Regions from separate parts of the Homo sapiens genome. Here region 1 is linked to region 2. Evidence: fine-mapped expression QTL. Tissue or cell type: whole blood. Region 2 holds a variant in brackets; the other region holds the start of a gene. All regions are shown on one strand. Distances are between the middles of the regions.

Region 1 (8,080 bases), 28 kb after region 2:
CCGCGCCCGGCCTGGATGAGCTACTCTCTAAGGTTCTGCCTGGCCCTGCGTTTTCTGTATTCTGAGCCAGAACCCAAAATGACTTGCCTCGGTAGCCCCTGTTCGCAGACTGAAAGCTGATGCCTGGCTCTGGGGCCTCTGCCAATGCTTGGCCCAGGCTGAGTCGGCTGTTTCATCCCTCCTACTGCTGTGAAAGTGGAGAGGGGGCCAACTCTCCAAACCCAAGGCACTGGTCACAGGAAGGCAAGCTTTGATGTCAGGACTCCCGTCAGGCCCAGCTAAAAGGCTTTGGACTTCCCCAGGAGTCTCCTCAGACAGAATGGCTCTGTGCTAACAGAAGGGGACTCATGAGTGCCTTTTTCTGGGCAAGGCTGCCAGGGGAAGGGGAGTGATTAGCAGTGTGTGGCATGCAGCGGGGTGATGACACTGAGGGGGTCACTGGAGTGTGAATGTCATTCCCCCATCATCGTCAACCAGGCCATATTGGTACAAAAGGTGTCTTTATTGAGGTCTGGGTTAAAATTAGGCACTTGGCCAGAGCAGCAGCTTAAATATGAGGCAAGCAGTCAGGGGTTAGCCATGCCTGGGGCTGGGTTGGGGTCATGAGGCTACAGGCACAGACTGTCCCCAGGTGGACAGAAGTTGGAGCAGGAAGAGGAGGAGGAAGGGGCCGCAGAGCAGCCTGGGTCAGAGGCCTGGTGGGCCAGCCCAGTGGGACTAGGCAGGAAGCTCTGGGTGGCAGGTCCAGCAGGGAGGGGACCAGGATCTCTTGCTCCACGTGCCCCTTAGACCCAGGCCTGAGCCTCTGGCAGGGGCAGCCGCACTTGGCAGGGCGGTCTTCCCAAGCCTCACTTCTTCACCTTGGCATCGTAGGTGCCTGCATTCTTGTAGGCGCTCACGTAGCCACTGTCGTCCAGGATGTCCTGCCGTCCCGCAATGCCCTTGCCCTTGCCGCTCTCATCGAAGCGCTCCTTGTGGGAGCCCGTGTATCTGCTGGTGTCCGTCAGCCGGTCTACAGCACCCCCTGTTTTTGCTTTCTGTTTGGACAGAGTTTCCCCAGGGGCACCTGATGAGGGAGCCCAGCCCTTCCCACCCACAGCCACGATTCCCCACACCCCATTCCGTGGCCACCCGAGACCAGCAGGGCACTTACAGTGACGCCCACATTGGCTGGCTCTTTGCCTGCCACCAGCTGGCAGATGGCATCGAAGGCCTCCTCCTTGCTCTTCCCCTTGAATCTCTTGGTCGCCAGCTCTTCCAGGGCCTTCTTGAACTCCTCATAGTTGATGACCCGAGCAGACTTCCCCCTGACAGGCATGTGGGCACCATGAGGGTTCCCCTTTCTTTTTTCTCCCCCAGGGGAAAGCTCAAACACATTTGCTGCCACCACAAATTATGCAATTGCGTTTCTTTCCCACGTTTGGGGAAGTCGCAGGGGTCAGCAACTCTGGAGGGCAATAGATATAAGGTTTGCCCTGGAAGAACGACCTTCGTGATCATGGTGTTTCCCTGACCCCTTCTTGATGTCCTCCCTGGTTCCAGCCCCCCAGTTCCCCACCTCCTGGGAACATGAGAAGCAGGGGCTGCTTAGGGCTCACTTGACTTTGGAGAAGACGATGTCCACATCGGTCCCTGTCACGGACTTTCCGTCAGCCACCTTGCAGTCCTTGCACAGCTTGGCCCAGTTCTTGCCATTCATCTCTTGCCCACTGGCCTTGGGGTCACCATGGATGGCAAACTTGCGGAAGCTCTCCTCCAGCCCAGCCATGTCTGTGCTCGCTGCCATGCCACCCTATAGAGACCCACCTGGGTCATCTCCCAGCCAATCTGCCCTTCCCCTCCCCCAAGCCCAGAACATCCCAGCCTCTACCTCAAACCTGCAAGACCTGGGCAGGTTCTGCTACAGAGTTGGTGCTGGAGCTGCCTGGGGAGAGGGGCCCGTCACTGTCGCCCTGGGCCACAGAGCCCCAAGGAAGAGCCCCGGGAGGCACGGTCTTGTCACTAATGCCAGCCCTGGCTCTCAGCAGGGTTCAGCAGATGAAATAATGATGCCCACAGGGAACAGAGTGGCACTGTCCAGAAAGACTGTTAGGGCAGCAGCTGGGGCCCTGGCTTTGTCTGGCCCTGGCACAAGGCCTTGCTTGGGTGGAAGTGAGGGTGGCAGAGCAGGCCCCCTCCCTGGAAGCTCCATGCCAAGCTGGCTTGGGGCCAGGCCAGGCTGCTGGTCGGGCAGGCATTCAGTGAGGACAGCATCTCTGTAAGGGTCATGAGGACCCAGCAAGAGCCAGTCTGGGCACGGGTGCATGCCCTGGGCAGGGGTGCAGCTGGTCCAGCAAGGCCTTGTTACTATTTGCTGTTAAACAAAAACATGAGGGGAGCTTGGGGCTGGCCTGGCCACAGTTTGTGAAGCCTGGAGACGGTTGCTAAGGGAGGGTGGTGCTGCTTGGAGAATGTTGCTAAGGGCAGGATGGTGTCAGGGCAGCTCAGGGAGAAGCTCCCAGTGCTGAGGGGCTGGGCTGGGCTGGGAAGCTGGGGCCCACGGGTGGGGCACGCCAGCACTCCCTGCGCCTAGGGCATAACCGTGGCTTCCTGGCCCCTTGCCACCGACTGGTGCTGTAACCTCCCACTGTGGAGTTTTGGGGGAGCAGGAGGTTGGGGGCTAGTAGCGTGGGGGCTGTAGAGTTACGAACCCCAAGAGTCGTGCTGGCAAGTGGGGCTGTGGCTGAAACACACTTCATCATGTCTACACCTCAGACCTCCCCTGGCCACGCCCTGAACTTGGCCACACCAGCCCACATTCCCAGCGACCCTGTGCACTCAGCCCTGGCCTGCCACCCCCTGGGCCTTGTACCCCTGGCCATACCTTCAGCCCTCCATCCTCCATCTTCACACCCACAGCCACAGCCCTCGGCCACCAGCCCCCACATATATACTAACAAGCCTGCGCCAACCCCAGTAATACCCACAGTCCAGCACTAAAGTGCCCCCCACACCCACAGCCCTCCGCTGCAGACCCCTGGCCACACCCTGAGCCTACACAGCAGCCTTCTCCATCCCCACACCCGCAGCCCTGGGGCTGAGGCCCCTGGCCACAAACCTGCATCCCTTCCTGAGACCCCTGACCATAGCCTCAGCCACTCACCCCCTCCAATACCCGCAGCCCTTTATCAAGGCGCCCTGACCCTCAGCACCCCTTTGTCCACACACCCTCAGCCCTCTGGCCACACCCTCAGCCTGCACTGAAGGCCCCAGTCCACATCCACACACTAACATTATAAGACTCCCAGGTACTATGCGGAGATCCCCTGCGTAGAGACCTCCCCACCACATCCCCCTCCTCCACTGCCACCTCCTGACCACACCCTCGGTCTCAGCAACCATCTTCTAGCTCTGCCTTTTACACTAGGGCTTCCAGTGACCACGGCCTGGGCTCTGCCCGGCTGCCCCATCTTCCACCAAAAACTCCTCGCCAGTGACCACACTCCCATCCCTAAGTGGCAGTTTCTGGGACTGTGAGCACCGGTGGTTCCTACGTTACAGGGACCATAACCCCAGTCCACGCTGCACTCCCCTTCCCTTTCCCTGGGTGCAACCTCCCACCAGGGACCCCAAGACCCGCACTTGGTTCACCAAGGGTAACGTCCAGGGGAGCTTGGATGCCACAGGGTGCTTGGCCCAAGCACTGGGCGGATCCTGCGTGCAGTGCTCACTCCTGTCCGTGGAAAGATGGATTCTTGGTCATCTCAGCGCGGTCAGGTGGCGCTGGGTTGCAGGCCGCAGCCCCATGGGTCTGCAGGCCATGGATGGAGTGGCCACACCCGTGAACTGGAGCCACCCGTCCCGCTCCCACTGGGACAGCTGGAGTCATCAATCAGCCGGACCAGGAGGTGGGGGCTGCGAGGTGGAATGCTTGGGGCCAGGGCAGGGCCGCTCAGCTGGCTCCTCGGCTGGGACCGCCGGAGGTTGGGACCCTTTCCAGGCTGCTCCCCCCAACCCTCATCGTGCAGGATACTGATTGGGGTGGCGGGCATCTGGGTCTCCTATGGGCTTCTACCTCGCGGCTGCTCCTGAAGTGTGCGTTCGGAAGGACAGAACGACGCAGGAATGGACCGATGGACGCGGGAGACCAGGCGGCTCCGCAGCTCCGCTCCCTGCCGGCTCCCGGGTGGGACTGCAGCCCAGGCGGCTCCGCCGTATTATCCCCTGTTTCTCGGTCTCCATAGAGACGGCGAGTCCCACCCCCGAGGCTGTCTCGGCGGGAGAGTGACCAAGGTCACGCCGGCCCCGCCCACGAGGCCCCGCCCTCCCCGAGACTCTCCGGGAGCCGCATCCCGCCCCTCCCCCGCAACTCCGCGGTCCTCGCGACGGCGAGACCAGCGCTCTGCAGTTCGGGGCGTCTTCGGACGGCCCCCTGAGGAAACAGCCTCCCATCCTGGGATGTGCCTAAAGCTCTAAGCGGCCCCAATCTCCAGAAGAGATCCAGCTCCCCAGAGAGTCAACCAGAGGCCACTGGGGAGCTGCGCGGGGCATTGGTGGGGCTTGGGGAATCGGGAAGGAGCTCTCCCTCAGTGACAGGGGTATACGGTTGACTCAAGAGCACTGCCATCCACTGAACGGATGGCACCCCCAGGCCACAACTCCCGTGCTCTCTTGGGTAGGATTCAGAGCCTGGAGCAGTGGGGAAGAAGGGAGGGGACTCCCTACGAGCGAATCGCGCTCGCCCAGCCCCAGGATGCTGGCATTCGACGGCAGCCCTGCTGCCGGGGAAAAGCTGCGGGACCTCCTGGCTCGGCCCCCTCCTTTCGCCGCCACCTCCCCACGGCCTCGCAGCCTCAGCGCCCACTGCTGCTTTCGGAGCCCAAAGCCTGCTTTCTCTCGGCCTCCCAGTGCAAAGCCCATCTTTAAGAAAAATAACCTCCTCCAGGCCGCCTTCTAAGGCCTTTCCTAACCACGAGCCGCACGTGAGCACCTCCACAGGGCAGCCTGGGTGGCTACCTACTATACAGGGACCTCCTCCCCGCCCCCGGTCCACTGGCCAGGGTCGGGCTTCTGGATGGCCCGTGGCCCCTGCCATTAAGAAAGTAAGCGCGACGTCCGCAAAAGCATAAAAAAGTTTATTGGAGCATCACAGCCGGTGGGGCGGGTATTGCTGAGTCGTGGGGGAGGGAGGCCGATCCCGCCGGCCGTAGGGGCCCCTAAAGTGCACTCGGTGCGGCAAGGATGGGGTGTTGCATAGAGAGTCAGGCCGGCCGCTCTAACTCGGCCCTCCGGCCTCTCGGCCCAGCTAAGCCAGACCAGCCTCCCGGCCGCCCGGCGCCCTGGGCTCGCCGCTGCTCGGGCTCACGAAAACGGCGGGCGCACGCGCCTGCCGCGCCAGCGTGGGCTGTCGGCCCCGGCCCCGCGGGGCGGCCAGAGCGGCGCTGCCCAGGCGCGTCTGCGCCACTGGAATCTCGTCCACGGACTCTGCCGACGCCGAGTGGTAGGCGCCGGCAGGGCCAGCGGCGTGCACAGGGCTGGCGTCCGCGGAATCCGTCGACGAGCTGGAGCGGCGGCTGGGGGCCCTAGGCCCTGCGCAAGGGAAGGGAACATGAGCCCAGTGGCTGCGGCTCGCTTGTGGCTCTGCCTTCCCCTCCCTCGAGTTCCCAGAGCAGGACCCGGACAGGGAGAGGCGCTCACCCGACGCCGGATCCGAGGTCTCAGACGTTCGCACTTTATACACGCGCCTCTTCCTCTTTTTCTGCAGAGACACGGGGGAGCCTGAGGGCCCCACATCGCCAAAAGAAGCAGAGGCGAGCGCCAGGGTAGAGGCTTCTTTCTATCCCACTCCACCTGGACCGGAGGCCCAGCACAGTCCCTCCTACCTGGGGTCGGATCCGGGGAGGCAGGGCGAGAGTGTCTGGGGAAGAGGGTGGTGGAGGTTCCGCTTGGCCACGGGTGGCAAGAAACTGGGAGGGACTGAGGGGGAAGCAGGAGGGTAAGCCTGGGGCCTGTTCCCCAAATCCCTCCCCACTGGAGGTGCTGAGAGAAGCTTCCCTTCCTGTTAGCTCAGAGAAGGGCCTGACCCATGCCCCGACCTTAGCCTACCCCCTTCTCCTGCCTCGATGGCCCTGCCATGCTAACTGGAGATGCCCAGTGGCACATGCCCAGGTTGCACTCACTTGGCATTCACTGCTGCTGGCCCGGCCTGGCCAGGGGGCTCTGGGCGCATATGTCTGAAGGTCCGCATGTAGAACTCCATCTCCTGGGGAAGGTGGAAGTCAAGGAGGCTGGGAGGCCAGGTGTGGCTCCCGAGCCTGCTGAGCCCTAAGCCCACGCAGTCCTGCCCTCATTGGCCTCTGTGGGATATCTCAGGCCTCATGCCAGGCTCCCAGCCATGCTGGGAAAACCCCATCTGTAGGGTAAGGCTTAAAACACCCATTTCTGGCCCTTGCCCCATCCCCAGGTCCTTACCTCATCTATTCAGCCTCTGCCTCCTGCAGGAAGGCTCCCAGCCCCCATGGGTCTATAGGCCCAGTTTAGAGAGGCTCAGCCAGGGAGTGGTGGGAAGCTCAGAGCTGCCCGCACCTGCTCCTGGTGTCCCCAGGGATCCAGCCTCTGAACCAATTGTTTTCCCCTGGCTGAGAAACAGGCCTGAGTGTGCATCCACCAGCTCCCGCAGAGCTGAGTCCTGGGCACACCCCTCGCCCTCACAGAGGACCAGCCACGATCCAGGCTGCCGAGAAGGGGCTGCGTAAATGCACATGCGGTGGTCTCCCTGCCACTACACCAAAAGGGAAGGTAGCAGGTGGTGGAACAAACAGAGCCGCAGCCCCACTGAGCACCAGGCTTATGGGCAAGCCCTGATCTTCACAGCAACCCTGAGGGTGCAGACGCGACCCCTGAGAGCAAAGGGGCCTTGAGGCCAGGGGGTTGCAGGAGTGGCCTAGTCCTGCACCCCCGCCCGCAGGACTCGCCCCAGCTTTGCCCAGAAGGACTCCAGGTGAGGAAACAAAAGCCTGGGGAAAGCAGGCCCGGGAAGGGCGTGGTGCGAGATGGGGGCGGGTCCCGGGCGGGGTGGGAGCCGGGAGGGGTTGCCGGGAGCACCCGGACAGCTGTCGCCAGTTCAGCAGCCGTTTCCATGGAGACGGAGGCGTCCTGACTAATGCAGAGAGGACACTGTAACAGCAAGGCCGTCTCTAAAACAAGCCTATGTTTGGGGGCAACGGCTCCAGAGAGGGGCCCCTCCCGCATTCCTGCTGGGGTGGGGGTGGGTGGCTGCCTGCAGGGCCCTGACAGATCTGGGGGAGGAGCCCAGCCAGCGGCCCCGCCCAACCTCTGCCCTGGCTGCTGCTCTGGAGAGGGGTGTGGGGGCGCCAGCCTGGGCCGAGGAGCGCGGGGTCAGGGGTCAGAGGCCAGTCACAGGGACTGGAAACCTCAAGATCACTCTCCCCCACACCTCTTTTCTGCCCCAGTGTGGACTCAGTGACCCTCTAGGGCCAGCAGAGGGGCAAAGCCCACTGGGGGGCCCTGGGCTCCAGAGGGGGGAGCAGAGGAGGGGCCAGCAGTAGAGGAGGTCTCAGAAGCTGAGGGGCCTGGATGGGAAAGGCGCCAGGCCCTAGCCAGCTCAAGAAGTCTGAAAGCGTCCCCAGTGAGTCCCCACTCAGAGCCCTGTCCTCTCTCGCCATGGCTGTCCAGAGGATACTGTCTCAGAGACCTTCAAAACCGTGTACATTCCTGAATGGTACTGGGCCCTCAGCCTCAGCTCTCTGCTTTGTAAAAGAGGACAAGAACACCACTCCTGTCCCCCGGGTTTGCCTCCCTCAAGTCACTGCAGATGGACAGAACAGAAATTAAATGTCTTCGCTGTGGCCACATTTGGCCCCAAAGCCTTGGCAGCGCAGGGCCAAAGAGCCCGCCCTGCTTCAGTGGGTGCTGCCTATGAGGCTTGAGAAAGTCTCCTGCCTACTTCTCTGGGCCTCCGTCTCCTCTTGATGTGGGGCTGGAAACAGTACCCTCTCCCCAGCACAGCTGCCACCATCAGAGCCCAGCACTGGGGCAGGTATACGGTGGTGTAACAGTGGAGTCGCCACCCACAGCCAGC
Region 2 (8,100 bases):
TTTTCATTCAAGTCCCCCCAGAAGACCTCAAATCCCAGAATTATACGTTAATAAATGTATTGATCAAGAGTGGAAAAACGTTTGTACAAATATGACAACCTAATAGAATCGTTCTCTCTTTCTTGTCATTCTTGTCTCACTCCTGTTACTCAGGCTGGAGTGCAGTGGCACAATCTTGGTTCATTGCAGTCTCGACTTCCCAAGTTAAGGGTTCCTCCCACCTCAGCCTCCCAAATAGCTGGGACTCATGCCACTAAGCCTGGCTCATTTTTGTATTTTCAATAGAGATGGGGGTCTCACTATGTTGCCCAGGCTGGTGTTGAACTCCTGGGCTCAAGTGATCCACCCACCTGGGCCTCCCAAAGTGTTGGGATTACAGACACGAGCCACTGTGCCTGGCCTTTGATAGAATTGCTGACAGGCTCTTCTTGATAACAGTTTCCAAAGTGGCCAGAACTGGGCTACAGTTTTTGTTATTTTTACTTTTTATTTTTAAAATAATTTTTCTAATCACAGTAAAAATATTGGTAAAAAAATAAAATTATAATACAGGAAAAAAAGTTAAAATTTATCACTTTTTTGTGAATATATGTATTAAACTAACATCAGAATTTGAAAGGTGAACTGCAAAATACTAATGAGATTTTCTCTTTTCTTTTGGAAATGGAGTCTCACTCTGTCACCCAGGCTGGAGTGCAATGGTGCGATCTCAGCTCACAGCAACCTCTGCTTCCCGGGTTCAAGCGATTCTCCTGCCTCAGCCTCTTGAGTAGCTGGGATTACAGGCGCCCACGCCTGGCTGATTTTTTTATTTTTAGTAGAGACGGAGTTTCACCATGTTGGCCACGCTGGTCTCGAACTCCTGACCTCAGGTGATCCACCCACCTTGGCCTCCCAAAGTGCTGAAATTATAGGTATGAGCCACCATGCCTGGCCCTAACAGTATTTTTTAATGAAAATGGAACACTATTTCCTTTACTTTTAAAAAATTATTTTTCTTTAACTATAAAACAAATCTTACCAGGCCTGGTGGCTCACGCGTGTAATCCCAACACTTTAGGAAGCCAAGGCTGGCAGATTGCTTGAGCCCAGGAGTTCTAAACCAGCCTGGGCAACATACGGATACCCTATTTCTATTAAAACTTTTTTTTAATGTAAAAATTAAAAAAAACAAAAACAAAAACAAATCTCACACAAAATAACATACAGAGTGTTCTAATACGTTTTGTTTTGTTTTGTTTTTTCTTCCCGAGAAAGAGTCTTGCTCTGTCGCCCAGACTGGAGTGCTGTGGCGCGATCTCGGCTCACTGCAACCTCTACCTCCTGGGTTCAAGCAGTTCTCCTGCCTCAGCCTAGCGAGCAGCTGGGATTACAGGTGTGCACCATAACGCCCAGCTAATTTTTGTATTTTTAGTAGAGACGGGATTTCACCAGGCTGGCCAGGCTGGTCTCAAACTCCTGACCTCATCATCCGCCCGCCTCAGCCTCCCAAAGTGCTGGGACTACAAATGTGAGTCACCGTGCCTGGCCAGAAGTTTGAATATATATACAGAGCCTAAAGTACTACTAATAAATATATTTAAGCTCATGGTGAATATTTCCAGCCCCATCACTAATTTAATCAATTTACAAGGATTTTATAAATAGCAGGGGATGATACTTCCACATTCTCTGTGTGGTAACCAAAAAACAAGATAAAACAAGAATCTCTCTAATAGCATTAGTTACAATTGAATAAAACAAAATAAACTGTAAAAAATACATTGGGAGACCTAAGGATTTAGCATTCTTCTCCATGAAATAGGTCCTGACTGGTTTCTCTCTCTTTTTTTTGTTTTTGTTGTTGTTGTTGTTGTTGTTTTATTGAGATAGAGTCTCACTGTGTCGCCCAGGCTGGAGTGCAGTGGCACAGTCGTGGCTCACTGCAACCTCCACCTCCCTGGTTCAAGCAATTCTCCTGCCTTAGCCTCCTGAGTAGCTGGGATTATAGGCGCGCGCCACCACTCCCGGCCCGGCTAATTTTTGTATTTTTAGTAGAGACAGAGTTTCACCATGATGGTCAGGCTGGTCTCGAACTCCTAACCTCAAGTGATCTGCCCACCTCAGCCTCCCAAAGTGCTGGGATTACAGGCGTGAGCCACCACGCCCAGCTTAGTTTTCTCTTTTTACAAAAGAGAGAAAGCAAGGCAGAAAAAGGCTAGTTTGAAATGGTCAATCAGTGCTGACTGCTGATTAGTACCCTGGAGATGTATAATGCCAGGAGTCTATTCCCAGCATCTCCCCCTGTAGTTGGAGATTATGGAATTGGTATCACAGTTAATTATTTATTCGCTTAGGAAATGTGCAAAATATTTGCCTTCCACTCAGTTTCTGTTGAGCACTTCATAAATTATGAAGCCATTTCATATCCATTATCCTGTTTTAACCTGGCTCAACCCTAACAGATAGGCAGTTTAGATTTTATCATCTCTGTTTTCCAAACGAAGTGAGAGAAGTAGAGAGGTTAAGTGATTTGCTCAAATTCATGTGGTCTCCAAGTGGTGGCACCAGAACTAGCACTCAATCTTGTGACTTTCCTTTTAGTATCTATCCATTAGACATGCTGCCTTTGAAGTCTGGTCAGTGAGTGCTTTATTGTTTGCTTTTTCTTTTAACACAGACTCAAACAAAGGACTTTTTATTCCCTTCCCCAACCGGGAAATAAAGGATTCCCTAAGTACTTCTGCAACTCAGGGCAATGGTACACGTGATCAGAAATTAGACACCTTCCCACTGGGGACACAGGTAATGTATTCACTCTCCTGCTGATCTGTTGACTAGTCAATGATTAATACTGATAATTCAGTGGGCTCTCAATTATTTATGAAGGTCTCAGAGGACTTGTTTGATGAAGGCATTTTAGACCCTTTTAAAGGAAAGGGCAGGACAGAATGCAGAGTACCTTCTCCATTAATTTCAATCTCCCATTTCCCTCTCTCTCACACTAACCTGTTATCTAATGTCATATATTTATACATATAACTTTAGCATATCTATGAAAGGCATTTTGGTCCTCAAACAAGAATGCAACTGTTACAGTTTTTGGCTGGTTTTAAATTTTCTCCCCTCTATCCAATATCTCCATCTCCTGTTGCCTTGCTTCTTACATTTTCTACCTACACCCTTTAATACTGAGTCTTACATTTTAGGTATGACTTTCCCAAAGCTGCCTCTGCAGTATAACAGAAAAAGTAAAGTTTAAGGGGTAAAGATGGCATGGAAGTTGTGGGCAATGGGAAGATAGAGATCATGCAAGATGGGGGAGGAGTGAAAAATAAGGTTTTAGTGAAAAAATTGGTGACAGAAGGGATGCAACCATTATGTAAGACTTGTTTGTGTGAGTGAATATGATACAAGGAGCAGAACTGACTACTTTATATTCACCTTCTCCCTTTCTGTGCCTTTTCTTTGATACATTTATGAGCAATAAAATTGTAGAAAATAGCCAGGAGGAGAAAGAAAAGCAGCAAAGGCTCTGATTAATCCATAATTTGGACAATCAAGACTGAATTAGTAAAAAGTTAGTACTATTCTTTTCAGTTTGGGTATAGACTACCTTCATCTTTTAAAAAGATAAGCATTTAATCAGTTTCTTTGTTTTTGGAGATTATACTTGGGTGACTTAGAAACAATCTCAGTTACCATTTTTTAAAACCATATTGACTTAAGGAAATGGAGACAAAGAGTATTGCAATCTCCAGTTAAATAGCACTTCTTAGATAAAAAAGCAAACAAAAAA[ACTT/A]CTCTGAAATTACTTCTTGAAGTGAGAAAAAAGGAAATTGAATAGTTTGCTGTATCTTTTTAGTTTAAGAAATAAGGAAGTGGGATTTCTTTCTCTCCATGACTACCAAAAAGACACTGAATACTTTAAGATAATTTTTTTAAAAGCAAACCCTAGATGGCTTTCTGTTTTCCTTCAGTCCTTGCCTAGTTATGCCTCAGATTAATTTTCAGCCTATTAAAACCCCCTTAGCTATGGTGGTTGATAGCTTTATCAGCTGGTAAAATAAGCATGAGAGTCCTTTAAACAGAAAAAGCAAAGCTGGAAAGTGGCCCTCATCTACCTTCTATGAGCTATCTAAGGCAGAGAAAGTACAGTCATTGTTTGCTATGTCCTTTACTTCCTAAGGATATTCAAGCAACTCTGGAATCTCCTTGTATTGTGACTGTTTTAAAATAGACTTAAACTGGACCTTTGCTTAAAGGTCTGTTTCCCTAGCTTGCAAGGATAGTCTTTCCCATTAATAGGAAGGTATTCTGAACCCCTAGTCTAATAAGCTCACATTTGAACGCGCATGGACTTCCTTCTACCTAAACTTTCGAACTTTTTTTAGACACAGGAAGTAGCAAGAAGGGAGATGCCAAGTGACAATCACCAGGAAGATGGTAAATATTTTGCTCACTGAGTATTTTTCCCCCACACTAATCAGAGAAGTCTGGATGTGATGGGATTTGGGAGATGAAGATGTCTCAATATGGGGGCCCTATTTAGTCAACTAATTTCTGCTTTTGTGAGGGACTGTCCTGGATGATTAGTAACCTGTGAGACTTTTCTGCTTAAAGAGTGCATATTCTGACCTCCTTTGTTCTTGATTTTTTTTGCGTTGGATGACTATTCTTTTTGTTACCTTTCTTGCCTTCTTTTGTATTTATTATTTTTTATTCATCCATTTGTTTCTCTCTACTGGTTTATAAGTTATATACATTTTCTATACTTTTAGTATTATTCCCCAAATGATAATATGTATCCTTAACTTACATAATTTTTAAATTGTTAATACCTTAAGTCTTCTTTTGGATAATTCAAAAACCGTACAGTACTTTATTTCATTTACTCTTTCCTGACTTATATGTTGTTATTATGAATTTTAATTCTCTATATTTTTAAAGACTTCACAAGATATTATTTTTTATATAGTCAGTGTAGATTTAAATCTATCCATTAATTTACTACTGTTTGTTCACTTCCTTTTTCTTCCCAGGCTTCCCTTCTGATATCATTTTCCTTTGCCTTACAGTGGCACATACTTTAATGTAGGTCTATTAGTGATGAGCTCTTTCAGCTTTTCTTTGTGTGATAATGCCTCTATTTCACTATCATTCTTGAAGGGTATTTTAGATGGGTGTAGATTTCTAGGCAGTTCGTTCTCTCTCTCTCTTCCCACTTCCTTCTCTCTTTTTTTTTAATTTTTTTTATTTTTGAGACAAGTTCTCAATCTGTTGCCCAGGCTGGAGTACAGTACAGTGGCACAATCAGAGCTCATAATAACCTCAAACTTCTGGGCTCAAGCAATCCTCCCACCTCAGCCTCCCAAGTAGTTAGGACTACCACCACACCTGGCTAATTAAAAAAATTTTTTTCGGACCAGGCACAGTGGCTCATGCCTGTAATCCCAGCATTTTGGGAGTCCGAGGCAGGTGGATCACCTGAGGTCAGGAGTTTGAGACCAGCATGGCCAACATGGTGAAACTCCATCTCTACAAAAAATACAAAAATTAGCCGGGCATGGTGGTGCTTGCCTATAATCTCAGCACTTTGGGAGGCCGAGGCGGGTGGATCACTTGAGGTCAGGAGTTGGAGACCAGCCTGGCCAACACGGTGAAACCCCATCTCTACTAAAAATACAAAAGCTAGCTGGGCATGGTGGCATGTGCCTGTAATCCCAGTTATTCGGGAGGCTGAGGTACGAGAATCGCTTCCCTCTGGGAAGCGAAGGTTGCACTGAGCTGAGATTGCGCCACTGCACTCCAGCCTGGGCGACAGAGTGAGACCCTGTCTCAAAAAAAAAAAAGAAACAGAATTTGTCTCCAGAATGTTATAGATTCTTTACTGTTTACACAAAAGTCCCACATTTTATTGGTGGTGGTGGTGTTCCATGTGGAAGTCCTTTCATCACTTTATGCTACCATTGATCAGAATTATAAACCACCTCTTCCTGAGAGGTGTTTCTGGCAGACAGAGAATATGTTCAGTGAACAGAGGTACTCCCAGCTAGGCCACAAAGAATTCTTATCATGTTTTGTTTTTTTGCCTTGGTGGTGTTTAGAGTTCAGACACTACTCGCCTCGTCAGTCCACAGTCCGATCCCCAGAGAAGATGACTAGAGAAGGGTACCAAGTATCTTTTTTGGACAATAAGTCTTCAGGTTCTTCTCCAGAAAAGGAATTGATACCAAAACCTGATACTTTTCATCTTACCCATGATGCCTCATTGAGTAAATGCCTGGATGTGGGTGATTCTAGCCAGATCCATCCCTATCAGTTACCTTCAGATGTTGGTCTGGAAAATTATGACAGTTGTTATTCTCAAACTCTATCCCTGCATGGAAGTCTTGGTAAAAGGCCTCAGAGAAGCAAGAACTATCAAGAGTATAGCATAAAGCCTTCAAATGACATAAAGACCACCGCTTCACATTCCTGTGGAGACTTATTAACTTCTCTGTCAAACCCTGACTCCAGCACTGGAAGGCTTTTGAAGCTTAGTTCAGGTAACAGCTTCCTGTCAGTTTACAGGTCTTCTTCATAGGCATGAAGATAGAAGATATAAGTGAAAATTTTGGAATTAACCCTTCTGAAATTGTATTAGCATTTCTTAAGTTGTATTTTAGGGTCACCAGTGGTTCTTGGAACCTCGAGAAATCTGTAGGGTATGAGTTTAACATGATATATATATTAGGGAAAATTTGTAGGAAAGTGAGCATTGCAGCTACTTGCTATTTTAGTTAAGCAGCATCCCAGGACATCTAGTCTTTACTCACAGTCACTTCTATTCTGACTTACTTTCAGAAGAAGTTAGTTTCAGGCTGGGCACGGTGGCTCATGCCTGTAATCCCAGCACTTTGGGAGGCTGAGCCGGGTGGATCACGAGGTCAGGAGTTCGACACCAGCCTGGCCAACATGGTGAAACCCCGTCTCTACCAAAAATACACACACACAAAATAGCTGAGCATGGTGGCATGCGCCTGTAATCCCAGCTACTCAGGAGGCTGAGAGGCAGGAGAATTGCTTGAACCTGGGAGGCAGAGGTTGCAGTAAGCCAAGATCGGGCCACTGCACTCCATGGGCAACAGAGCAAGACTCCATCTTGAAAACAAAAACAGAAGTTAGTTTCAGAGTTAGTGACAGAGATCACTCTTCTGTTACTTATTTATTCAACCAAACTCATTGAACACCTACAGTGTCCCAGACACTGTTCTAGCTCTGGAGATAAAGTAGCAACCAAAATAAAGTTCCATGTATATTTTACCATAATAAGAAGACAGTCCCTACTTTCATAGAGCTTACATTCTCATGGGGTAAGACACATGATAAACATTTTAGCATGCAAATATATGTCAGGTTATGGTAAATGCTGTGAAAAAATTATATAAGGGCATAGAGCGTGATAAGGAGGAGGCGATGCTTTAGATAGAATGGTCCAGAAAGCTTCTCTGATGAGGCACCATAAAAGTAGAGACTTGAATGAAGTGGGAGTATAAGCCATGTGGGTCTGGGAGGAGAACTTTCTAGACAGTGGGAATAAATGCAAAAGTCCTGAGGCTGGAACATACTTTTCATGTACAAGGAACCTCAGGGAGGCCAGTGCGGCCTCAGCAAAGAAAGTAGAGTGTATAGATGAAGTAAGAAAGATGCCAGACTTTTTTCTGGGTGAGATCAGAAGGAGTTGGAGAGTTTGTAGCAAGGGAGTGATGTGATCTCACTTAAGAATTACTGTGAATGTTGGGCTGAGAATAGACTATGGGGAGGAGGGTAGAAATTTTTTTAAAATGCTTTGGAGAGATTGGAATCAGCGTAACAGATGATGATGGCTTGGGCTAGACAGATAGCGGTGGAGGTGGTGAGAAGTAGTCAGATTCTGAATATGTTCTGAAGATGACACTCCATGGTTTGCTGATGGATCCAGGATAAAGTGTGGGAGAAAGAGGGTCAATGGTAATTCTGTGGTTTTGAGTCTGAATAACTAGAAGAACAGAGCTTTCATTTACTAAGATGGAAAAGAATGGGAGGTAGAGATTTTAAGATAAATATCAAGAGTTGGGTTTTGGACATCTTAAGTTTCAG

Evidence for each region. PIP is the estimated chance that this variant, and not a neighbour inherited with it, causes the effect.
Region 1: it holds the start of TPPP3, and the variant in region 2 is fine-mapped to the expression of TPPP3 in whole blood (TOPMed, PIP 0.96).

The regions. Positions count from the first base shown.
Region 1 is chr16:67,389,326-67,397,405 of GRCh38, forward strand. It overlaps TPPP3 (tubulin polymerization promoting protein family member 3), which reads right to left and starts at 4,173. Exons shown (of 4, transcript NM_015964.4): 1 at 4,055-4,173; 2 at 1,599-1,792; 3 at 1,154-1,307; 4 at 484-1,037. The coding sequence starts at 1,786. The coding sequence ends at 849. It overlaps ZDHHC1 (zDHHC palmitoyltransferase 1), which reads right to left. Exons shown (of 12, transcript NM_001323627.2): 9 at 6,159-6,241; 10 at 5,862-5,955; 11 at 5,677-5,737; 12 at 4,827-5,568. The coding sequence ends at 5,285. It also overlaps the pseudogene RNU1-123P.
Region 2 is chr16:67,360,931-67,369,030 of GRCh38, forward strand. LRRC36 (leucine rich repeat containing 36) reads left to right here. Exons shown (of 14, transcript NM_018296.6): 6 at 2,660-2,784; 7 at 4,374-4,425; 8 at 6,087-6,527. Among named protein-coding and RNA genes, the nearest start is that of TPPP3, 29 kb to the right of the region's middle. The variant ACTT/A (reference allele first, on the strand shown) is at 3,779.